Regions from separate parts of the Homo sapiens genome. Here all the other regions are linked to region 1. The links come from fine-mapping of genetic effects on gene expression. A gene starts in region 1. Each other region holds a variant in brackets. All regions are shown on one strand. Distances are from middle to middle. Region 1 holds the start of CHMP4B (charged multivesicular body protein 4B). Region 2 overlaps ZNF341 (zinc finger protein 341). Region 3 overlaps CHMP4B (charged multivesicular body protein 4B).

The links. PIP is the estimated chance that this variant, and not a neighbour inherited with it, causes the effect. A credible set is the group of variants that fine-mapping cannot tell apart.
Region 2: its variant is the best candidate, but not a certain one, in a credible set for the expression of CHMP4B in whole blood (INTERVAL, PIP 0.64).
Region 3: its variant is the best candidate, but not a certain one, in a credible set for the expression of CHMP4B in putamen (GTEx, PIP 0.88).

What each region holds. Positions count from the first base shown.
Region 1 is chr20:33,806,950-33,815,221 of GRCh38, reverse strand. CHMP4B (charged multivesicular body protein 4B) reads right to left here and starts at 3,874. Exons shown (of 5, transcript NM_176812.5): 1 at 3,564-3,874. The coding sequence starts at 3,753. It overlaps ZNF341-AS1 (ZNF341 antisense RNA 1), which reads left to right and starts at 4,123. Exons shown (of 4, transcript NR_110623.1): 1 at 4,123-4,182. RefSeq lists enhancers at 2,581-2,650, 2,479-3,319, 4,086-4,165, 3,905-4,199 and a silencer at 3,746-4,025.
Region 2 is chr20:33,741,740-33,750,011 of GRCh38, reverse strand. ZNF341 (zinc finger protein 341) reads right to left here. Exons shown (of 15, transcript NM_001282933.2): 3 at 4,713-4,909; 4 at 940-1,089. Among named protein-coding and RNA genes, the nearest start is that of ZNF341, 14 kb to the right of the region's middle. The variant C/A (reference allele first, on the strand shown) is at 4,637.
Region 3 is chr20:33,828,778-33,836,777 of GRCh38, reverse strand. All of the region lies in intron 1 of CHMP4B (charged multivesicular body protein 4B), which reads right to left. Among named protein-coding and RNA genes, the nearest start is that of CHMP4B, 21 kb to the right of the region's middle. The variant T/C (reference allele first, on the strand shown) is at 4,510.

The sequences.
Region 1 (8,272 bases):
TGCGTAACATATTTTCATCCAATCAGGCAGATACTAGTACCCTGATTTGTGGAGGAGGAATCTGAGGTACAGAGTAACCTGCCCCAGGTACCCAGCAAGGAAATGATGAAGCTGCAGCTCAAACCCAGGTCTGAAAGGCACTATCCTTGCCCCTGATGGGATTCTTGCCTCCAGTCCCTTCCTGGTCAGTCTACACTTCTTCCTTTAAGCTGCTGCTAGAGTGCTCTTTCAAAATTCCAAACAGATATGATGACTCTCTGCTTTAAAAGCCAGCCAAGGGCTGAGCACAGTGGCTGTAATCCCAACACTTTGGGAGGCTAATACGGGAGAATCGCTCGAGGCCAGGAGTTTGAGACCAGCCTGGGCAACAGAGCGAGACCTTGTCCCTACAAAAAAAAATGTTTTGAATTAGCTAGGCATGTGCCTGAAGTCCTAGCTACTCAGGAGGCTGAAGTGAGAGGATCATTTGAGCCCAGGAGTGCCAGGCTGCACTGAGCTATAACTGCACCACTGCACTTCGGCCTGGATGTCAGAGCAAGACCCTGTTGCTTAAAGTGAATGAATAAATAAAAATAAAGGACAGCTAAGGGCTCCTCACTACTTCCAGGTCAAGGTCCAAAGACTACAGGCCACTCTCAGTGTTATCTCCTGTCCCACCCACAGACTCCAGAGGCGACACTGTCACTGCCTCCCAAACACACCCAACTCCTTGCTGACCCACCTCACGTTCTCCTTCCTCTGCCAAGTCTTCTTTATCCTTCCCCCCAAACAGGTGCCGCCTCCTCTGCAGCCTCAGCCCATGTACACACTCATGTTTCTGCACTGTTATAATCATTTCCTGCTCTCTCACACGCACATACACTCCCACCCCACACTTCCAATTCTGAGTTCCTGAAGGGCTGACACAGTGTATTTTCATCTCTGACTCTCAAGGTCCCAGCATAGTGGCAGGTGAATAAGCAGACTAACTGAATGGTAATGTGGTAGTGTTCACCTCCCCACACTAAGACCTTCCTCCTAGAGGATGCTAAAAAGAAGGGTAGGTTACAGTAGCTCCCATCCTCTCAAGCAAACTCAGGGAGACAGCCTGCCTTCAGCAAGTCTGACAACTGAGATTGGTCCTCCACAGTTGGCTGGCGAGCTCTCCTGCAGCCCCTTGAAAGTCAATTCGATCGCCAAAACTGCAGAAACGGCTGGGTGCGATGGCTCATGCCCATAATCCCAGCACTTTGGGAGGCCGAGGCAGGCAGATCATGAGGTCAGGTGTTCAAGACCAGCCTGACCAACATGGTGAAACCCCATCTCTACTAAAAATACAAAAATTAGCCAGGCATGGTGGCGTGCACCTGTAATCCCAGCTACTCAGGAGGCTGACGCAGGAGAATCATTTGAACCCAGAAGGCAGAGGTTGCAGTGAGCTGAGATCGCACCACTGCACTCCAGCCTGGGCAACAGAGCGAGACTCCGTTTCAAAAACAAACAAACAAACAAACAAACAAAAAAACAAACTCCAGAAACTAAGCTAGCTCCAGACCAAAAGATCAGAGGAAAATGGTAAACTGACACCCTCCTCCTGCATTCCAAAATGCAGAAAGCTAAAAACACTGATTCTGATGACCATAAACAGAGGATCTGGACTGAGGGAGAGTCATCAGAGGAAAAAGCTAGAGACAGCAAAATATAACCCTGTTCCCATCTCCACAACTAAGCTGGAGTCCAAGCCACAAATGGACCACTGCAGCTGCCTCCTCACTGTTCTCCCTGCTCCCACCCGCATCCCCCACCCACTCTCCAAAGAGCAGCCAGATGATGTTTTAAAAACTCTGTCAATAAGGACACGTTCCAACAAAATACTCTCCAAAAACTTTCCATCCACTTGGAATAAAATTCAAACTCTTCACCAACAGGTTCAAAGTCCAAGCCCCGCCCCCTTTATTCCATACCACTCTCCCTCCAAGCACTACATTCTGGACACAAGGGTCTCTCTCTTCGGTTTCTTACAACCTGCTAACCTCCGAGCCTTTTCCCATGCTGCTTTCCACGCCCAGAAGGCTCCTCCCCCTTTTTTTTTTTTTTTTACAGAGCTGGTTCCTTCTCCAGACTCAGTTCAAACTTTACCTTTTCAAAGACGCCTTCCCTGACCATTCTATCCAAAGTGGCATCCCTCCCACTCCACCACTCCCTATCAGACCATCTTTTTGTGTGTTTAGTACTTATCACCCCCGGACAATATTTTCTTCATTTATTTTCCTGTTTCTGTCTTCTCTCCCATTAGGGTTGAGGCCGTGTTTTGTTCACCCCTATGAATACAGCGCATGCAGCAGGCACTAAAAAGAATTTCCAGAATATCTGTTGACTATCAGCAGAGAAGCATCCTCCAGATAGGCTATTTTGTTCTCCTATTAGAATGGAGAAAACATCGATTTAGCCCCTACTATGTGCTGAGCACTGTAAATCCATGATTTTCCTTTCAGAAAGGTAAATGAGCTCAAGGTCGCACTGCTAGTCACTAGCAGACTTCTGAGTGAATTACCTCAATCCTAAACCCCTCTCAAGGGGAAGGGATGTCGTTCTGTGATTCACTCTCACATGGCCATAACAAGAAAAAGCAAACATTTCTAAACTGCTTTACAGTTTTAAAGCATTTTCACATTCATCTCACTTAAGAAAAACACAAAGCACTTGGAATGCCCAGAAAGCCATACGACAACAGGAAGTAAAGTAAGCAGTGCCTCAAGATTCAATACTGGGGCCCTGAATCCTAGTAGTGGGGACTGGGGAGCAGTCGGGAGTCTCTATTTCTGGTTCAGACGGATGGGGAAGCGGTGAGTCATGGGGTGAAGGCTTGCGCCACGGGAAACTTTGGTAAGGTCAAGCTACGAGGCAACAAAAAGTGAATCACAACGCTGGAAAACACCTTAGGCCTCAACAGAGGCCGAACTCTGGCTGACGGATGGGGAAACTGAGGCCTCAAAGGGAAAGCAACTTGCTCAAGTTCACTCAGCAAGTGAATAGAGCAGGAATCGGGGGTCTCATCTCCCCCAGTCCCCTTTTCTCTCCAGCAAGGAGGCTTTTCAACGAGAATTCTGAGACAAGAGGACAGGGGAGAGGCCAAGGGGCAGCTCACAGATTCCACCGAGGAGTCGGGAGAGGGCACAGGTAGGACCAGGAAGCACAGAAATGCTAGGATGGGGGCAGAAATGAGCCGAGGAGGAGGCAGGGGCAGTAGCTAGGCAGGTGGGTGAGGCGAGAAGGAAAAGGCGGAAGAGAAAGGGACAGAGTGAGGGCGGAGGAAAGTGCTGTGAGATTGGGGTCTGAAGGGACCTGGCGGGGTGGAGAGAGGCTGAGGGGAGAGGGCAGAATAAGTCTGACGATGGAAAAGTCCAGGGATCGGGGAGACATTGAAGGGAGTCGGGGAGGGGGTCCCAGACCCGGCAAGAAGTCTGACCCGGAGAGTTCCAGGGTCAGACCAGACCCCGAGGCGAGTCTGATGAAGGTGAAGTCCGGGCCCGGGGAGCCTGGGGGGAGCCCGTGGCAAGTCTGAAGGGGCCGGGCAGCCTCACCGCGCTTGTTTTTGGTGCCGTGCTTCTTGGCGGCCGTCAGCTCCTGCTCGATTTTCTTCTCCAGGAACTCCTGTTTCTTGCTTAACATCTCTTCCGTGTCCCGCAGCCGCTGGATGGCCTCCTGGGGGGTCGGGCCGCCCTTGCCGGCCTTACCCCCTCCAGCCCCGAACAGCTTCCCGAACACCGACATGGTTGCTGCTCGCCGCGCCGGCCTTCGCCGCCCGCTCCGGCTCGGCTCGGCTCGGCTCGGCTCGGGTCGGCTCCGGCGCCCGCTCCCAGTCCCGCCGCTCCCTGCCGCCGCAGGCCTCTCCTCCGCCTCCGCCTCCGCCCCGCAGCTGGGCCCGGCCGCGCCACCTCCCACAGGCCCCCACGCCCGGCCCGGCAGGCGTCAGGGCAACGCGCCACTGACTACAACTCCCAGTGGGCAACGCGCCGGCCGCGCCTCAAATCTAATAGGGGGAAGCGTGCTGCATGCCGGGAAGCTATAGTCTTCCGGCTTCAGGCGCTCCCCGGCGCGTCTTTTGCTGTAGCTGGGGTCAAAGGGCGTGTGGCATTCTGGGAAATGTAGTCTCCTTGGCCTGCGCTCTGTAGGAGTGGCAGAACAGTAAGAGAAATGACAGTAAGTGTGCAACACTGCTCAAAAATTTATTGCTAGTATGGGATACTGCCATGCTTGAACTTCACATGTATATTCATGTGAAGTTGTCTTAAAAGCGTGAAGGCAACAGTTGTTTCCAATTTCAACCTGTCAATTCTGTGGTCACAGAAGCAAAGCAGTATCTTCTCCAGTTAAGTACGGTAGTGTCCCCCTTATCTGAGATTTTACTTTGAGTAGTTTCACTTGGCCAGCTAAGGTCTGACAGTATTAAATAGAAAATTCCAGAAATAAACAGTTCATAAGTTTTTAATTTCCATTGGCCTAATGAAATCTCGTGCTATCCTGTTCCATCCTACCTGCAATGTGAATCATCCCTTTGTCCAACATACCTCTACCATCTGTTAGTTACTTACCAGCTTAGGAGTTATCAGATGGACTGCCACGGTGTTGCAGTGCTTTGGTTCGAGTAACCCTCATTTTACTATATAATGGCCCCAAAGTGCAAGAGTAGTAATGCTGGCAGTTTGGATATGCCAAAATGAAGCTGTAAAGTGCTTCCTTTAAATGTAAATGTGGAAGTTCTGAGCTTAAGAAAAAAAATCGTATGCTGAGCTTACTGAGGTCTGCAGTAAGAACGAATCTTCTAGCCCTAGAATTGTGAAAGAGGAAAAAGAAATTCATGCTGGTTTTGCTGTCGTACCTCAAACTGCAAAAGTTACAGCCACAGTGTGTGATAAGTGCTTAGTTAAGATAGAAAAGGCATTAAGTTGTATCCTTACTTACAGGGGAAAAAAAGAAAATAAATTTTTTTACAAAAGAAAAGAAAAAGCATTAAGCTTATACGTGGAAGACACGAACAAAAAATGTGTTCCAACTGACAGCAACCTGTTACCCCCCAGAAAGCATTGAGCCTGTATAAAGGCTTCAGCAAGGAATCTCCTAAAACCAGTGGCACCAAGCCACTTACTGAAAGTAATGGATGGTTGCACTGACTTAGGAATAGGTTTAGACTGCAAAATATAAAAATTACTGGATGGGCTGGGCACAGTGGCTCACACCTGTAATCTCAGCACTCTGGCAGGCCTAGGCGGATGGATCACCTGAGGTCAGGAGTTTGAGACCAGCCTGGCCAACGTGGTGAAACCCCATCTCTACTAAAAATAAAAAATAAAAATAAAAAAATTAGCTGGGCGTGGTGGCGCACGCCTGTAATCCCAGCTACTTGGGAGGCTGAGGCAGGAGAATCACTTGAACCTGAGAGGCAGAGGTTGCAGTAAACTGAAATCGTGCTATTGCACTCCAGCCTGGGCGAAAAGAGCAAAATTCTGTCTCAAAAAGAAAAAAAAAATTACTGGAGCCGGGCGCGGTGGCTCACGCCTGTAATCCCAGCACTTTGGGAGGCCAAGGCGGGCGGATCACGAGGTCAGGAGATCGAGACCATCCTGGCTAACAAGGTGAAACCCCGTCTCTACTAAAAATACAAAAAATTAGCCTGGCATGGTGGCGGCGGGTGCCTGTAGTCCCAGCTACTCTGGAGGCTGAGGCAGGAGAATGGCGTGAACCCAGGAGGCAGAGCTTGCAGTGAGCCGAGATTGCGCCACTGCACTCCAGCCTGGGCGACAGAGAGAGACTCCGTGTCAAAAAAAAAAAAAAAAAAAAGGCCGGGCGCGGTGGCTCATGCCTGTAATCCCAGGACTTTGGGAGGCCGAGGCGGGCGGATCACGAGGTCAGGAGATCAAGATCATCCTGGCTAACACGGTGAAACTCCATCTCTACTAAAAATACAAAAAAATTAGCCAGGCATGGTGGCACGCGCCTGTAGTCCCAGCTACTCAGGAGGCTGAGGCAGGAGAATGGCGTGAACCCGGGAGGCAGAGCTGGCAGTGAGCCGAGATGGCACCACTGCACTCCAGCCTGGGCAACAGAGCGAGGCTCCGTGTCAAAAAAAAAAAAAAAAGTTACTGGAGGTTGGGTGCGGTGACTCACGCCTGTAATTCCAGCATTTTGGGAGACCAAGGCAGGTGGATCGCTTGAGCCCAGGAGTTGAGGCCAGCCTGGGCAACATGGCGAAACCCCATCCCTACAAAAAATACAAAATTTAGCTGGGCATGATGGCACAGGCCTATAGTCCCAGCTGCTCAGGAGACTGAGCCATGAAGATCATCTGAGCCTGGGAGTTTGAAACTGCAGTGAGCTGTGATCTCACCACTGCACTCGAGCCTGGGTGACAGAGTGAGACCCTGTCACAAATAAATAAATAAATATTACTGGAGAGGCTACAGCAAGACAAGTTGGTGGAGAAGGATTTGGGGACATGCTTGATGAAGAAGTGGAAGATCATATTGAAGGCCACTGGGAAGTGTTAACAAATGTGGAATTGGAAGAACTTGTCAAGTCATCTACAAAGAAAGAGGAAAATGAAGGAGAAACAGAAACAGAACCAGCAATATGGGTGTTATCAAAATTTGCCGAGTGTTTCAAATTGCACAGACATTAAAGGACAAAATTATGGAATTCAATCCTCAGATAGAACACAGCATTAAAACCACTCGTGTGGTCACCAAAGGATTACAACTTCTGCAGCCACACTTCTATGAATTAAAAAGAAAGAGGCCAGGCATAGTGGCTAACACCTGTAATCCTAGGACTTTGGGAGGCCGAGGTGGGCAGATCACTTGAGGCCCGGAGTTTGAGACCAGCCCGGCCATCGTGGTGAAATCCTGTCTCTACTAAAAATACAAAAATTCACCAGGCATGGTGGCGTGCACCTGTAATCCTAGCTACTTGGGAGGCTAAGGCAGAAGAATTGCTTGAACCCAAGAGGCAGAGGTTGCAGTGAGCCGAGATTGCGCCACTGCACTCCAGCCTGGGCGACAGAGACTCTGTCTCAAAAAAAAAAAAAAAAAAAAGAATTAAATAGAAAGAGATGGCCAGGTGCAGCGGCTCACGCTTGTAATCTCAGCACTTTGGGATGCTGAGGTAGGCGGGTCACTCGAGCTCACAGGTTTGAGACCAGCCTGGGCAACATGGTGAAACCTCATCTCTACAAAAAATGCAAAAAACTAGCTGGGTGTGGTGGCGCACACCTGCAGTCCCAGCTACTCAGGAGGCTGAGGTGGGAGGATCACCTGAGCCCAGGAGGTTGAGGCTGCAGTGAGCCATGATCACACCACTGCACTGAAACCTGGGCAACAGACTGAGATGCTATCTCAGAAAAAGAAAGAAAGAGACAACTTCCAGTAATAATGTTCTTCCAAAAGTTTTTGGCAAAAACGCAATTATCCAAGGACCCCCAATCATTGGTTGACATCGTCTGATCCTGATATCCAACCACTGACATCGTCATAGCTCAATGATCCAGGATCACCCAAAGCAGATGGTCCTCCTGACATCTCAGATGGTCAGTAGTAGCCTAACACTACCTCATAATGCCTGTGTCATTCACCTTACTTCATCTCATCACATAGGGATTTTGACATCACGCATAATCTCAAGAAGAAGGGTGAATACAGTACAGTAAGACATTTTGAGAGAGAGACCACATTCACAAAACTGAATACAGTATATTGTTATAATTGTCCCATTTTATTAATAGTTGTTATTAATCTCTTACTGTGCCTAATTTATAAATTAAACTTTATCATAGATGTATATATATAGAAAAAACACAGTATATATAAAGTTCAGTACTATTTATGTTTTCAGGCATCCACTTGCAGGTACACCTGAGGATAAAGGAGAACTATTGTATTTGAAAAACAACAATAATTAACATTGATGCACATTCTGTGATTGCACCATCGATGCACATTCTGGCATTGTGCAAAGTGCTGTACATATAATATCACATTTGGCCGGGGGCAGTGGCTCACGCCTGTAATCCCAGCACTTTGGGAGGCCAAGGCAGATGGATCATGAGGTCAGGAGTTCGAGACCAGCCTGGCCAACATGGTGAAACCCCGTCTCTACTAAAAATACAAAAATTAGCCAGGCATGGTGGTACGTGCCTGTAATCCCAGTGACTTGGGAGGCTGAGGCAGGAGAATCACTTGAACCCCAGAGGCAGAGTTTGCAGTGAGCTGAGATTGCGCCACTGCACTCCAGCCTGGGT
Region 2 (8,272 bases), 65 kb after region 1:
TTGGGCCAAGGCAGGTGGATCACCTGAGGTCATGAGTTTGAGACCAGCCTGACCAACACAGTGAAACCCCATCTCTACTAAAAATACAAAAATCAGCTGGGCGTGGTGGCGCACACCTGTAATCCCAGCTACTCAGGAGGTTGAGGCAGGAGAATTGCTTGGACCTGGGAGGTGGAAGTTGCAGGGAGCCAAGATCGCACCACTGCACTTCAGCCTGGGCAACAGAGCAAGACTCTGTCTCAAAAAAAAAAAAAGAACAAAAACAAAAGTCAGGCTGGGTGCAGTGGCTCACACCTGTAATCCTGTAATCCCAGCACTTTGGGAGGCCAAGGTGGGAGGATCACCTGAGGTCAGGAGTTTGAGACCAGCCTGGCCAACATGGTGAAACCCCGTCTCCATTAAAAATACAAAAATTGGCTGGGCACAGTGGCTCACACCTGTAATCCTAGCACTTCAGGAGGCTGAGGTGGGGGGCTCACTTGAGGTCAAGAGTTCGTGATCAGCCTGATCAACATGGAGAAAACCTGTCTCTACTAAAAATACAAAAAAAAATTAGCTGGCTGTGGTGGCACATGCCTGTAATCTCAGCTACTCAGGAGGCTGAGGCAGAAGAATCACTTGAACCCAGGAGGCAGAGGTTGCAGTGAGCCAAGATCGTGCCACTGCACTCCAGCCTGGGCAACAGAGTGAGACTCCATCTCAAAAAAAAAAGTCAAAATAGCTGCACTGTATTGACAAAGCCCCACATGTTCTGGGTCCCCACCTAGACGTAGCAGCTTCCCCATCTATAGCAGAGCTGGACAAGGGAAAGCTGATAGCCTCCCTCAGCATCAGGGAGAGCTGGGGCCAGGCCCCCTTTATTCTACAAGATTCTGAATCTGCAGGAGTTAATGTACAGGTCTGGAATCAAGACCCTGTGAGAAGCCCACACCTTCTTACCTGCACAGGTGGGGGGCCCTGGGGCATGGGCTGGTCCAGGGATGTGAAGGCTGACATGGCAGACATGAGCACATCATCGCTCACCAAGATGTTCCCCTGCACCAGGGTCTGGATCAGTGGGGACGGGGGCACTGTGATGTATGTGGAGATCTGGACAGTGGGAGAGAGAGAATGAGTGAGACGGAGAGAGACAGAGTGTGTGTGTGCTCATGTGTGCGTGTGTGCATGTGTGGACATGTCAGGCTCTGTAAGTAAGCCGAGGGCATGGCACAAAAGATCCAGGTTCTGGAATCCCACAGACGTGGATTCCATTTCTACCTCTGCTGCTCCCTGCTGTGTGACCCTGGGCAAGTCACTCTACCTCTCTGTGCCTCCATTTAATCATCTACTGAATGAGGATGATAAGACTGGGCACGGTGGCTCACAACTATAATCCCAGCATTTTGGGAGGCTGAGGCAGGTGAATCACTTGAACCCAGGAGTTCAAGACCAGCCTGGGCAACATGGTGAAACCCTGTCTCTACAAGAAAAATACAAAAATTAGCCGGTGTGGTTTTGCACGCAGCTGGTGTGGTTTTAGAGACTCTGTCTCTAAAAACAAACAAACAAAAACGGAATGAAAGAAAAAACAAATGAGGAGAATAACTCACATCCCTCTGCAAAGTACATACCCTATGACTCAGTAATAATACTTCCTTGTATCAGCCAGGCATGGTGGCTCACGCCTGTAATCCCAGCACTTTGGGAGGCTGAGGCGGGCAGATCACGAGGTCAAGAGATCGAGACCATCCTGGCCAACGTGGTGAAACCCCATCTCTACTAAAAATACAAAAAGTAGCTAGGCGTGGTAGTGCGCGCCTGTAGTCCCAGCTACTCAGGAGGCTGAGGCAGGAGAACCGCTTGAACCTGGGAGATGGAGGTTGCAGTGAGCTGAGATCGTGCCACTGCACTCCAGCCTGGCGACAGAGTGAGACTCCATCTCAAGAGAAAAAAAAATACTTCCTTGTATCTATGCTAGAGAAACACTGAACACATGTCCACATGAAGTCCACAAGTATCTTAGGTCAAGAAGAATATCTGGTGTGGCACGGTGGCTCATGCCTGTAATTCCAGCACTTTGGGAGGCCAAGACAGGCGGATCACTTGAGGTCAGGAGTTCGAGACCAGCCTGGCCAACAGTGAAACCCCATCTCCAATAAAAATACAAAAATTAGCTGGGCATGGTGGCGGGTGTCTGTAGTCCCAGCTACTCAGGAGGCTGAGGCAGGAGAATCACTTGAACCTGGCAGATGGAGGTTGCAGTGAGCCAAGGCCAGCCTGAGCGACAGTAAGACCTTGTCTCAAAAAAAAAAAAAAAAAGGTAAGAGATGGTGAGGGGAATATTTTCTACTAGCAAAACTCACAGTCAAGCAGTGAGAAAAATGACTGTGTTTTTTTTTTTTTTTTTTTTTTTTTTTTGAGACGGAGTCTCGCTCTGTCGCCCAGGCTGGAGTGCAGTGGCGGGACCTCGGCTCACTGCAAGCTCCGCCTCCCGGGTCCACGCCATTCTCCTGCCTCAGCCTCCCAAGTAGCTGGGACTACAGGCGCCCGCCACTACGCCCGGCTAATTTTTTGTATTTTTAGTAGAGACGGGGTTTCACCGTTTTAGCCGGGATGGTCTCGATCTCCTGACCTCGTGATCCGCCCGCCTCGGCCTCCCAAAGTGCTGGGATTACAGGCGTGAGCCACCGCGCCCGGCCAAAATGACTGTTTTATGCCAGAAGATGCCTGTTTCAGTCTATATGTCCTATGGGTCTGGGGTGAATGCTTTCATAGTGATGGCAGAAATGACACCTATACAATGAATGAAGATAATGTTCTAAAGGGATAAGGAAAGAAAAGGAAGCCAGTTGAAAATCTGACCCCTTGACCTGGCATCCTGAGATATGCCCAGCCTCCTTTATGAGGGATCCTTTAGTCTTTCTATGAGCCCCCTATCCAGGGTGTCTTTGCTCCAGAACCGTGTTTTCGGCTGAGGACTCTGGAAGCTTCCCCAGATGCCTCCAGCCTTGTCCTCTGCTCTGGCCTCCGGACTTGGAAATCTACATTGTCTACTTTGTCACTGCCTCCGTTTAAAGGTTGGCAGGCATCTCAACTTCAACGTGCCCAGCTGAACTCCTGACATCCCCCCAAAACCTTCTCCTCACAGCCTCCTCCCTTCAGCTAGTGGCAACTCTAAATCAGGAGTCCTCTGTGACCCTTCTTGATCTCACACTCCTCACCCAATCAATTCACAAGTTCTATCAGCAACACCTTCAAAGTATTTCTAAAATCTCACACTTTCTCACCACCTCCACTGCCAACATGCTGGTCAAGCTACCCGCATCCACTGCCTGGATTTGCACTACAGTCCCTCAACGGGTCTCCTGGCTTTCTCTCTCACCCTCCCTCAAAACCTATTCTCTGTCCAGCAGCCAGAGTGACCTGATAAAAGTCACTATGTCCCTCCTCTGCTTGACAGCCTCCAATGGCTCCCATGTCATTCTCAGTAAAAGCCCCAGCGGCTGGGTGTGGTGGCTCACACTTGTTATCCTGGCACTTTGGGCGGCCGAGGCGGGGAGATCACAAGGTCAGGAGATCGAGAATATCTTGGCCAACATGGTGAAACCCCATCTCTACTAAAAATACAAAAATCAGCTGGGCGTGGTGGTGCGCGCCTGTAGTCCCAGCTACTCTGGAGGCTGAGGCAGGAGAATCACTTGAACCCAGGAGGCGGAGGTTGCAGTGAGCCGAGATCCTGCCACTGCACTCCATCCTGGGCAACAAGAGTGAAACTCCGTCTCAAAAAAAAAAAAAAAAAAAAAAGGCCGGGCGCGGTGGCTCACGCCTGTAATCCCAGCACTTTGGGAGGCCGAGGCGGGCAGATCACGAGGTCAGGAGATTGAGACCATCCTGGCTAACATGGTGAAACCCCGTCTCTACTAAAAATACAAAAATCAGCCTGGTGTGGTGGCGGGCACCTGTAGTCCCAGCTACTTGGGAGGCTGAGGCAGGAGAATGGCGTGAACCCAGGAGGCGGAGCTTGCGGTGAGCCGAGATGGCGCCACTGCACTCCAGCCTGGGCAACAGAGCAAGACTCCGTCTCAAAAAAAAAAAAAAAAAAAGGCCCAGACCCTACACGATCTGCCAAGACCCTCCTGCTGCCTCTCCTAGCACCTCCCACCTTCCTACTTACTCAGTCCCAGCCACTCTCACCTCCTTATAGTTCTGGAACAAACCCAGCACACTCCTGCCTCAAGGCCTCTGCATCTGCTGATCCCTGCACCTGGCTCCTGCTTCCTTCCCCAAACCAGCCGCATAACTCATTCCCACACCTCCTTAGGTCTATCTGGTATGTTCTTCCTACTTATTTAAGTAACTGCGGAAATTATATAGTACTATTGTTTCAGATTTTAAAAATAATAATATATTATCTACTTATTATTCTACAATTTGATTTTTCATACAAAACCTTTTACCTGCTATATAGTATTCTTCCTGGTCACCTCTTCACAGAGCTCTTCCCCAAGCACGATAGACAATATGGCAAAACCTCCCATCCCCGTCTGGCATCCCCTATCTCTCCGCATTTAACATGCTGAAAACAGTACATGTGCACCATCCATCTCGCCCCACTCCACAAGGGCAGGGACTTGGTCTGTCTTATCCATTGCTATAG[C/A]CCCAGTGCCCAGCACAGTGCCTGAGCATGTTAGGCCCTCAAAAAAGACATGTTGAATGAATAAATGAACAAATACCTGGCGATTGGCAGGAGTTGGGGCCTGCTGGACCGCTGTGGGTGCTGCCGAAGGTGGGTAGATGCTGTTGGTGGCCAGTGAGACTGTGGCCAGGGCGGGGGCATTCCCCTGGCACTGTTCCCGCTTGTGGGTCATAAACGCTGGCAGCGAGTTGAATTGCTTCTTACACTTCCCGCAGAGAAATACATCCTCGTCATCTGGGGTCATACCCGCAGAGTAGTGGGAAGAGGCCACAGATGAAGGTAAAGTAATGAAAAAAAAGCAAGACTATGTCAAGGGGCATCACAGTATGAGACAGGAGAACTGCAGCTGACCACAAGCAGCAATCTGGGGGGCATGCTGCGACTTGACATGCAGGTGTCAGCCATCAACTATGTGCTTCCTGGGAGTTTTCGAAGCCACACAGGTGGCCAGGCACAGTGGCTCATGCCTGTAATCCCAGCACTTTGCGAGGCCTTGGAGGGTGGATCACCTGAGGTCAGGAGTTCAAGATCAGCCTGGACAACATGGCGAAACCCCATCTCCACTAAAAATACAAAAATTAGCTGGGCATGGTGGTGCGCGCCTATAGTCCCAGCTACTCGGGAGGCTGAGGCAGGAGAATTGCTTGAACCCAGGAGGCAGAGGTTGCAGTGAGCCCAGATCGTGCCACTGCACTCCAGCCTGGGCAACAGAGCGAGACTCCATCTCAAAAAAAAGAAAAAAAACCACACAGTTTCCTGCAGGGATAGCCATATGTGGCCAGGTACCAATTAATTAGAAATCAAAAAACAGTAAAGTATGTTCACTACAAAGTTGAGAACTCCAGAACCTTTATCCTGTCTGAATTTATTCATCAGTCCCCAAATGAGCCACCTGATCATACTCCTCCCATGCCTTTGCATCCACCGTTCGCCCTGCCAGGCTGCCTCTCTGAGGACAACTTGTTCTGCAAGCCTCAGCTTGACTGTCACCTCTTCCAAGAAGTCTTTTTTTCTTTTTCTTTCCTTTTCTTTTCTTTTTTTTTTTTTCTTTCTGAGAGAGAGTTTCACTCTTGCTGCCCAGGCTGGGGTGCAGTGGCACAATCTCAGCTCTCTGCAACCTCTGCCTCCCATATTCATGCGATTCTCCTGCCTCAGCCACCCCAGTAGCTGGGATTACAGGCATGCGCCACCACGCCCGGCTAATTTTTGTATTTTTAGTAGAGACGGGGTTTCACCACGTTGACCAGGCTGGTCTCGAACTTCCTGACCTCAAGGGATCCACTCACCTCAGCCTCCCAAAGTGCTGGGATTACAGGCGTGAGCCACTGCACCGACCTCTCCAGGAAGTTTTTCTAAAGCCAGCGGCTATAGTTCCTTCCTCTGGCACACCTATCATATAACAGTTTTCTTATCAACACCAGACTGTGAGTCCCCTAAGGGAAGGACATGTGTCTTATTTATCACCATAACTACAATATCTCCTGGACACAGAGGAGGTTCTCAATGGACGTTTGTTGAATGAATGAAAAACTAAATGAATGATTAACTACAGTTAACACCATCCATTGCTGAGGGCCTACCACAGCTATGCGCTCACTGTGTCAAGCACCCAACATGTGGTAGCAGAAATGTCTAATTGTTATTCAATTCTAATTGTATCCTTTTTTATTTATTTATTTTTTTAAGAGACGGGTTGCCAGGCGAGGTGGCTCACTCACACCTGTAATCCTAGCACTTTGGGAGGCCAAGGTGGGTGGATCACTTGAGGTCAGGAATTCATGACCAGCCTGGCCAACATGGTGAAACCCCAGCTCTCCTAAAAATACAAAATTAGCTGGGCATGATGGTGCATGCCTGTAATCTCAGCTACTCAGGAGGCTGAGGCAGGAGAATTGCTTAAACCCAGGAGGTGGAGGTTGCAGTGAGCGAGATCACACCACTGCACTCCAGCCTGGGCAACAGAGCAAGACTCTGTCTCAAAAAAAAAAAAAAAAAAAAAAATTGGGCAGGGTGCGGTGGCTCACGCCTGTAATCCCAGCAGTTTGTGAGGCTGAGGCAGGCGGATCACCTGAGGGTCACGAGTTCGAGACCAGCCTGGCCAACATGGCGAAACCCCGTCTCTACCAAAAATACAAAAATTAGCCGGGTGTGGTGGCAGGTGCCTGTAGTCCCAGCTACTCAGGAGGCTGAAGCAGGAGAATCACTTGAACCCAGGAGACAGAGGTAGCAGTAAGCCAAGATCATGCCATTGCACTCCAGCCTGGGCAACATGAGCAAAACTCCGTCTCAAAAAAAAAAAAAAAAAGAGAGAGACAGGGTCCTGTTGTGTTGCCCAGGCTGCAGCACAGTGGCTATTCACAGGCATGATCATAGTGCACACCACTCTCAACTCGTATCCTTCTTATACAATAATACAAATTTCAGTGGGAAACATGGCTTCATAGTTAAATAATATATTTCCCAGGCTTCTCTGCAGCTAGGAATGTCATGTGACAGAATTCTCACCAATGGGACAACAATAGAACTGTACCGTATCTGCAACTTCCTCATAAAAGGAAAAGGAAAGGGCATGGACAGGGCACTGTGGCTCATGCCTGCAATCCCAGTACATTGGCAGGCTGAGGTGGGAGGATTGCTTGAGCTCAGGAGTTCAAGACCAGCCTGGGCAGCACAGAGAGACCCTATCTCTATTTTTTTTTTTTAATTAAAGAGAAGTTTTTTGGCCAGGCATGGTGGTTCACGCCTGTAATCTCTGCACTTTGGGAAGCTGAAGTGGGTGGATCACCTGAGGTCAGGAGTTCGAGACCAGCCAGGCCAACATGATGAAATCCTGTCTCGACTTGGCCGGGCGGTGTGGCTCACGCCTGCAATCCCAGCACTTTGGGAGGCCGAGGCGGGTGATCATGAGGTCAGGGGGTTTGAGACCAGCCTGACCAACGTGGTGAAACCCCATCTCTACTAAAAATACAAAAATTAGCTGGGCATGGTGGCGGGCACCTGTAATCCCAGCTACTCAGGAGGCTGAGGCAGGAGGATTGCTTGAACCCGGGAGGCGGAGGTTGCAGTGAGCCGAGATCGCGCCACTGCACTCCAGCCTGGGCGACAGAGCAAGACTCCATCTCAAAAACAAAACAAAACGAAAGGGTATGAATTCCACTTCCCTCTTTCTTCCCTTCATGTTGGCTGGAATGTGCCAATCAAAGTGGGAGCTAGAGCAGCCATCCCGGGCTGCAGCTCGAGGGCAGTAGAGCCACAGGAAAGAAGGAGTCTGAGTCTCACCATGCCCACCCCAAATGCCCAAATGCCCATCAGGACTTCGCGTAACACAGAAACAAACTTTAATCTTGTAGAAACCATGGTAAACTTCAACAGCTAGAACCAAATCCCAAGTACTCTCATAAGATTCCTATGAGGCAGAACAATTGTCCCTATTTTACAGGTGTAGGAACTGAACCACAGAGAAATTCACTCACTTGCCCACGGTCACAGAGCTAAGAACTATAAGAACAATAATTCAAACCCAGCCATTTATCTCCCTGCCCCTAGTGTGATTCCCAAGTACACAAAAATGTTTGTGGAATGAATAAATGAACACAG
Region 3 (8,000 bases), 22 kb before region 1:
CAGGCAAGGAAAACCCAGGCAGAGCCCAGCAACTTCCTGAATTAATGAGATAGAGCTGAGAGTCTGGGGAGACCAACGCAGCTGGAGTTCATGAGAGTACCTGAGGAGAGAGCTGCATGGAGAGAGAAAACCCTGGAGAGCCACGGAGGGTCCTCCTCAAGTATTCAGCAGAATACTGATCAGCACCCATGTGTGAAAAAGCTATCTAAGGCCAGGGAAAGAACCACTCAAAAGGATGACAGAGAATAAATAATATTAAGTACTCACATGGGGCCAGTCATAGTGCCTCTTCCTCAGCTAGATTAGAAAAGCCTCATAATTCTTCTTGGAGGGCCTTCAGGAGGGCCTTGTCTTAATAGTAGGGATTAACTAGCTCTATACTAGATAAACACTGCTCTGGGCCTGCCTAATAATTCTTAGACCCAAGACCCAAAAGGCAAATTGTTACCAAAAACTTGTGCCCCCAAAACATAAAGAATATAGGACGACAGAAATATTCAGTACCCAACAAGGCAAAATTTACATTTGACATCTAATCAAAATCTACCATTTATGCAAAGAAATGGGTAAATAACACCCATGATGCAGAGTAAAATCAACAAATTCCAAGTAACCCAAACTAACACAGATGTCAAAATTAGCAAAGAGATGAAAACAGTTATAACTATAGTCTATATGCTTAAAAAGCGAAGGAGAAACAGGGAAGATATTTGCTATGGTTTGGATACGGTTTGTTTGACCCTGCCAAGTCTCGTGTTGATATTTCATCACCAATGTCAGAGGTGGGGCCTAGTGAGAGGCATCTGGATCATGGGGGCGGATCCCTCAGGAATGGCTTAATGCCATTCTCCAGGAGTAAGTGAGTTCTTATTCAGTTCCCGAAAGAGCTGGTTGTTAAAAAGAGCCTGGCACCTCCTCCTCTCTCTCTCGCCACACACATAAGCTCCCCTTCGCCTTCCACCATGAGTGGATGCAGCCTGAGCCCTCGCCAGCAGCAGATGCTGGCACCATGCTTCTTATACAGCCTGCAGAACTGTGAGCCAAATAAACCTCTTTTCTTTATACATACCCCAGCCTCTGGTATTTCTTTAATAGCAACACAAATAGACTAAGATAATCTTTTTAAACACCTACATCGAGCTTCTAGAGATTAAAATTATTACATGGATGAACAGCAGATCAGACACTTCATTGATGAAAAGATTTGTAAACTTGAATAGCAATAAAAACTATCCAAAATGAAATACAGAGAGAAAAAATAATTTTAAACATCAGCAGAGCAGCAGTGAGGTGTGGGATAACTTCAGGTAACCTATATACATGTAACTGGAGTCCCCAAAGGAGGAGGGCAGGTGAATAAACATTTCAAGAAATAACGGCCAAAAATTTTCCACTTTGATGAAAACTTTAAACCCACAGATACAAGAAGCTCAATGACCCTGGAGCTTAAGAAACTTGAAGAAGACCACATATACCAAAGCACATCATATTAAAAGTGCTCAAAATCAGTAATAAAATGTTAAGAGCAGACAAAGAAAAAAATATACATTACATATACTGAAATAAAGATGACAAAGATTTCTCATAGAAAACGATGCTAGCAAGAAGACAGTGGAGCAATATTTTTAAAGAATCTCATTACTTCTATCACCTGGGATGGAATTTAATAATTAGGAATCATAGGCCAGGTGCGATGGCTCACGCTTGTAATCCCAGCATTTTGGGAGGCCGAGGCGGGCGGATCCCTTGAGGTCAGGAGTTCAAGACCAGCCTGGCCAACATGGTGAAACTCGTCTCTACTACAAAAATTAGCTGGGCGTGGTGGCGTGTGCCTGTAGTCCTAGTTACACGGGAGGCTGAGGTAGGAGAATCGCTTGAACCCAGGAGGTGGAGGTTATTGCAGTCAGCTGAGAACACGTCACAGCACCCCAGGTTGGGCGACAGAGTGAGACTCCATCTCAAAACAAAAATAAAAATAAAATAAATAGGAATCACGAACAGAAAATCTGTTAAATCCCCACACATTTAGGAACTAAATAATATACTTCTAAATAAGCCGTAGGTCAAAGAAGAAATGAAATGGGAAATCAGAAAGTATTTTGAACTGAATGAAAATAAAAACACAACATATCAAAATTTGTGGGATGCCACCAATGTGGTACCTTAAGGGAACTAAAAGCCTACACTAGAAAAGAACAATCTCAAATGGACCTCAGCTTCCACCTTAACAAGCTAGAAAAAGACCAGCTTGGGACTGAGCAACGTGGCAAGACCTTATTTCTATTAAAAATTTTTTTCAAAAATTAGTCGGTGGCAGGCACCTGTACTGCCCCAGCTACTTGAGAAGCTGAGGCAAGGAAGATCACTTGAGCCCAGGAGTTTGAGGCTGCAGTAAGCTATGATTGTGCCACTGCACTCCAGCCTAGGTGAGAGAGTGATAACCTGTCTCCAAAAAAAAATACAAATACAAATAAAGGGCAAACAAAATCCAAAGTAAGCAGAAGAAAGGGAATAAAGATCGAAGTGAAAAATCAATAAAAGACAAAAAAGAAACAAAAGAGAAAGAAGGTCAATGAAATAAAATTCTGGCTCTTCGAGAAGTTCAACAAGATTGAACTTCTAGCCAGACTGACCAGGAAAAAAAGATTACTGGTATCGAGAATGATAAATGTGATATCACTACAGACTCCAGGAATATTAAAAGGATAAAAAGGGGATATTATGAACAACTTCATGACAATACTAGAAAAGATGAAGCAACTTCATACCAATACTACAAAGGATGCAACGGCTTAGATGAAACAGGCAATTCCTTTGCTCATTCTACTGTACCAGGAATTACACTTTGCTCATGATACCCTGCTAGGGAACTAGGGACAAAAATGATACAGTCCCAAGGCTGAAGGAATTCACAGGCCAGCAGATATGGACAATGTAATACATGACAGAGGTCAGCACAGGACACTTACTGTGGATGCCTAGAGGGGGGAAACTAACCTTTGGGGTTATCATGCATTTTAAAGGATGGTAGGAGAGAGCCCAGAGGAATATATCCAAGCAGCAGGAAAAGAGAGGCATGAGAAAATAGGGGAGGGAACAAGGAAAGATAAAAGCTAAAGAGAGAAACTCAAGGACAGACTTGGATGTCTTGTTAAGGAGCTGCTGGAATCTATCCCAGGGTTAGCAGGAAGCCATTGAAAGATTCAAAGCAGGACAGGAACGTGATCAGATTTACATTTCAGAAAGATCCCTCTGGCTGCTGTGGGGAGAAGGGGCTGGCAACCACTGCAATAATCCAGAGGGTGTGGATTTCAAGAGCCTGAACTGAGGCCACAGCAGAGGGGCTGACCAGGAGAGGGTGAACTTGAGAGATACCAAGAGGGAAGACCATGGGCCTGTATCACCTGTTTGAATGTACAACAGAAGGAAATGGAGACTGAGTCAGGAATAAGTTCCAAGTTCCTGGCTGGGGCAACCAGGTGGTGGAGATGCCATTTCTCAGAGAGACCAGTAACTCAGGGAAGAGAAGATAAGGCAGGGAGGGAGAAACTATTCTCCCAGATCTTTCTGTGGGGCCATGGGCTTCAAAATTCAAGTTAGCACCTGAAGTTTGAATTAACCTTCTCTAAATCCATATGAGGAAGATGGAGTTCAGGGACTTCAGAGTGGGTCAAATCCAAATCACTTCTGGCTGGCCGTGGTGGCTCACACCTACAATCCCAGCACTTTGGGAGGCCAAAGCAGGAGGTTCGCTTGAGGCCAGGAGTTTGAGATCAGCCTAGGCAACATAGTAAGACCCTGTCTCTACAAAAAAAAAAAAATTTTTTTTTAATTAGCCAGGCATGGTGGTGCACACCTGTAGTCATAGCTATTTGGGAGGCTGAGGCGAGAGGATTGCTTGAGACCAGGAGTTTGAGGTTACAGTGAGCTATGATTGCGCCAATGCACTCCAGCCTGGGCAACAGAACGAGACCCTGTCTCTTTAAAAAAAAAAAAAAAAAATCATTTATTGTAAAACTATAAAGAGCACAGGATTCAAAGGTAACCTAATTACTACCATTCATACATGGGCGTGTCTCAGGAGAATACATAGGTATGGTACATGTTTTTAATTGCAGAGACTACCTCAGGGCCTTGTAATTGGTCATTTCTAGGAAGGGAGTGACTGAGGCAACGAAGGCACTTTTAAAATTATGTACCATTTACATGACTACCTAATCAAAACAAACAAAAACAACAGCCTATTTCTTCCTCATCCCCAGACATGGAAAGACAGTTATATTTTAAAAAGCAAATCATTTACTAAGAACAACCTGATTATGACTGGCACTGGCGCTTTGGTGTGGCCCTCGGGTGGAATGAAGGCACTGATTGAGCTCCTCCCCCACCCGCCAGGTCCCAGGCTGGATGCTCTTAGCCAGGCTTGCTGAGAGGTGACCAGGTTCTTGGCTGGGACAGAGGGGAAACAGCCTGCTTTGGGTTTCCGTTCCCAGGCTGGGATGCACTCTT[T/C]CTTTTCCGACTGGCTTTTCTTCCTCTGCTTCCAGCTGAATCCATGCCAACAAGGGCCCCCTTCTGCCTGAGCAAGCATGAGAGCACCCTGGCAACCGAGATGACAACGGAGGTATGGGGGCTGGGGACGTTTGTGGGGAAGTTGGGAAGAGAGTGAAATGCCGGCAGAAAAATACTTCCAATGTGCGCGCTTGTTAGAAAAGCAAGGCAAGAGGGAAAACCCAACCAGCCTTTTATGCTTTTGGAATCAAGAGAGACATGATGAAGGGGTTGCAGACAAATGATTTTCCTTGCCCAGGAGGCAGCAAGGGGTGAAGGGCACAGGAAGCTGATTCTCTTTCGGGAAAAGGTAGTCTTGCCTTGTCCTTAAAAAATGGGGCACAGGTCAGACACGGTGGCTCACACCTGTAATGTTATGTATACCTTAGCGCAATTAAAAAACAAAAACAGTCTGGTTCATGGGTTTGTTATCCGATCTTCCCTGCTGAACACTGTCGATTACAACTGTATATGTGAAAATAATAAAATTAAAGAACAAACTCCAAACTGCACAGAATTACCAGACACTGAAACACTGAGAGAACATAATCTCTGAGGCCAGGTGCAGTGGCTCATGCCTGTAATCCTAGCACCTTGGGAGGCCAAAGCAGGAGGATCACTTGAGGCCACGAGTTCAAGACCAGCCTGGGCAACATAGCGAAACCTCATCTCCACAAAAATTTTTAAAACTTAGCTGGGCAGCCAGGCACGGTGGCTAACACCTGTAATCCCAGCACTTTGGGAGGCCAAGGTGGGCGGATCACTTGAGGTCAGGAGTTTAAGACCAGCCTGGCCAACACAGCGAAACCTCATCTTCACAGAAACTTTTAAAACTTAGCTGGACGGCCGGGTGCAGTGGCTCATGCCTGTAATCCCAGCACTTTGGAAGGCCGAGGTGGGCGGATCACTTGAGGTCAGGAGTTCGAGACCAGCCTGGCCAACATGGTGAAACCCCGTCTCCACTAAAAATAGCCAGGCGTGGTGGTACGTGCCTGTAATCCTAGCTACTCTGGAGGCTGAGGCAGGAGAATCGCTTGAACCCAGGAGGTGGAGGTTGCAGTGAGCCAAGATCACGCCACTGCACTCCAGCCTGAGTCTTGTGACAAAGCTATCTGGAAAAAAAAAAAAAAAAAATTAGCTGAGCATAGGCAGTCTCAGCTACCTGGGAGGCTGAGGTGGGAGGATCCCTTGAGCTGTGGAGGTCCAGGCTGCAATGAGCCATTTTCATGCCAGTGTATTCCAGCCTGAGTGACAGAGCAGGACCCTGTCTCAAAAAAACTAAAAAAAAAAAAAAAACTCTGTTCCTTTGAACAATTAATTCACAGTGCTAGATTATAATCTGATTGTTTAGAAAATAATGTAAAGAAAGGAATGTCAGAAAGCAGCCTCCCTACCAAGAAAAACAATACCTCACGGGTCCTAAAGTAGTCAATCAGAAAACAAAAAGCTAAGGAGTGCTATGGACTGACCTGTATCCCCCCAGAATTCATATGCTGAAGCCCTGGCCCCAGTGTGGCTGCATTTGGAGATGGGGCCTCTTGGAGGTCATTAAGGCTAACTGACATCACAAGGATGGGGCCCTAATCTGACAGGACTATTAGCCTTATAGGAAGAGAGACGCCCCCGCTCTCTATCCACTCCCTGCAATGCACAACACACACTCCACAGAAAGGCCATGTGAGGACACAGCAAGAAGGCAGCTGTCTTCCAGCTGGGAAGAGGGCTCTCACCAGAAACGGAATTACCCAGCACCTTGACCATCGACTGAGTCTCCAGAACTGAGAAAATAAATTTCTGTTGCTTAAACCACCCAGTCTATGGTATTTTGTTATGGCAGCCCAAGCTAACTAACACAAGGAAGATAAGCACTATAGATGTCCAAGCCATTCAAAATCTTTCAGCCTGGCCACAGTATCCCCCATACCCTCTTGCTGTAGGGCTTTCAGGTCCCTCCCCTGAGATGATCAACAGCCTCAGTGTCTCTCCCACCCAGCGCCTTGCTTTTCCTGGCTCCATATGCTGAGGGAACCACCAAATGCTTCTGCCACTCCTTTCATCTTCCTCTTCACCACCACCCTCTCCCAGCCAAGCTTCCTTCCACATCCTGCTGAGCACTCCACCAGAATGTCTTCATTCTCCACCACACGTGAGACCTGGTTCTGGTTCCAGCTCTGCTGCCAGTCAGATCTGGTCAAATCAAAGTCTGTTTCCTCATTTGTAAAATGGGAGTGGGGGAATGGGCCCAGATGATCTCTCAAGTCGTTTATATTTCCCAGACCCAGTAACTCATCAGAACCTGAACAAGATTCAGCCAGGCAGAGCCATCTGCCCTTCTTCCCTTCCTATCTACTATCTACTGTCTGTCTACACATGTACCAAGATGTGGTTCTATAATGCTCAGATGTCCTGTGGTGTTATCTCTTCAGGCTGACCCTACATTAGGCACTGGTCTTAAACTATCTCCGGAGACTCTCTTTAAGGAAAGGGATCACCATGTGTCTACTCTGGATACAGCCTCCTCCTTTCCTACCAACTACAGAGCTGTACGTGCATATATTAGCCAATTAAAAGAAAATCTAAAACTTATTTCTCATACATGAAAATGATCAGGAAAGTCTTTCTGGGGTCTGGTTTCACATAAGAAATTGAAATTTTTAATTACTCAACCAAAGAGGGCAAAGAAAGAAATTCAGGCCAAAATTAATTCACAGATTTGTGGCCTTATAGCCTTAAGACCCAATACAGAAGGGAAATCAGTTCCTTAGAGCCTAGGGGCCAAAGAAAGGGAGGGAAGTGTCTCTTATTTTTGCCTGAGTTTGTTTCTGCTTCCCAAGGGAAAGGCAAAGCTGAGCAAACACCACAGATGGGCATTCTCGGCTGGGCCTGCACCTCTCCAAGTACCCAATGTGGTCTGAGAATGCAAAGAACTGGCTGAGAAGGGGCTGAAGTTCATAATCTGGTCCCTTTCCTATGTTTATAAACAGAGAGAACTGGGGAAAATTCTGTGTCTACATAAATACCACACACCCTCCTCTCTCCCAGCAAGAAGCAGCCTCTCTCCTCCAAGCTTCCTCGCAGCTCTTCTCGCTTTCTCCCTTGGATTCAAGTCATAATCCCTAATGGGCTGTGAGCCCAAGACAGAGGCCAACAATTCTTCATTTCTGTACTCCCAGCAATACCTAGCACTGTGCCCTGTACTACAAGGTGTTTGGGAAACATGTTGAATGAGTAACAGAAGGATAAATGGCCTCTGAGATTCTAAAAGGGGCCAGAATAAACAAATATTGTTCTCTTCTCAAGTCCTAGACTGCTATAAACCCTCCAGACTGCTGAGTGCTGGAATGTTCTCATATCTTGATCTATGTGATGGTTACACAAGTGTATACATTTAAAAAACTCATTCAGGTGTCACCTGAGACTTATCTGCTTACTATACGTTATACCTCAACGAA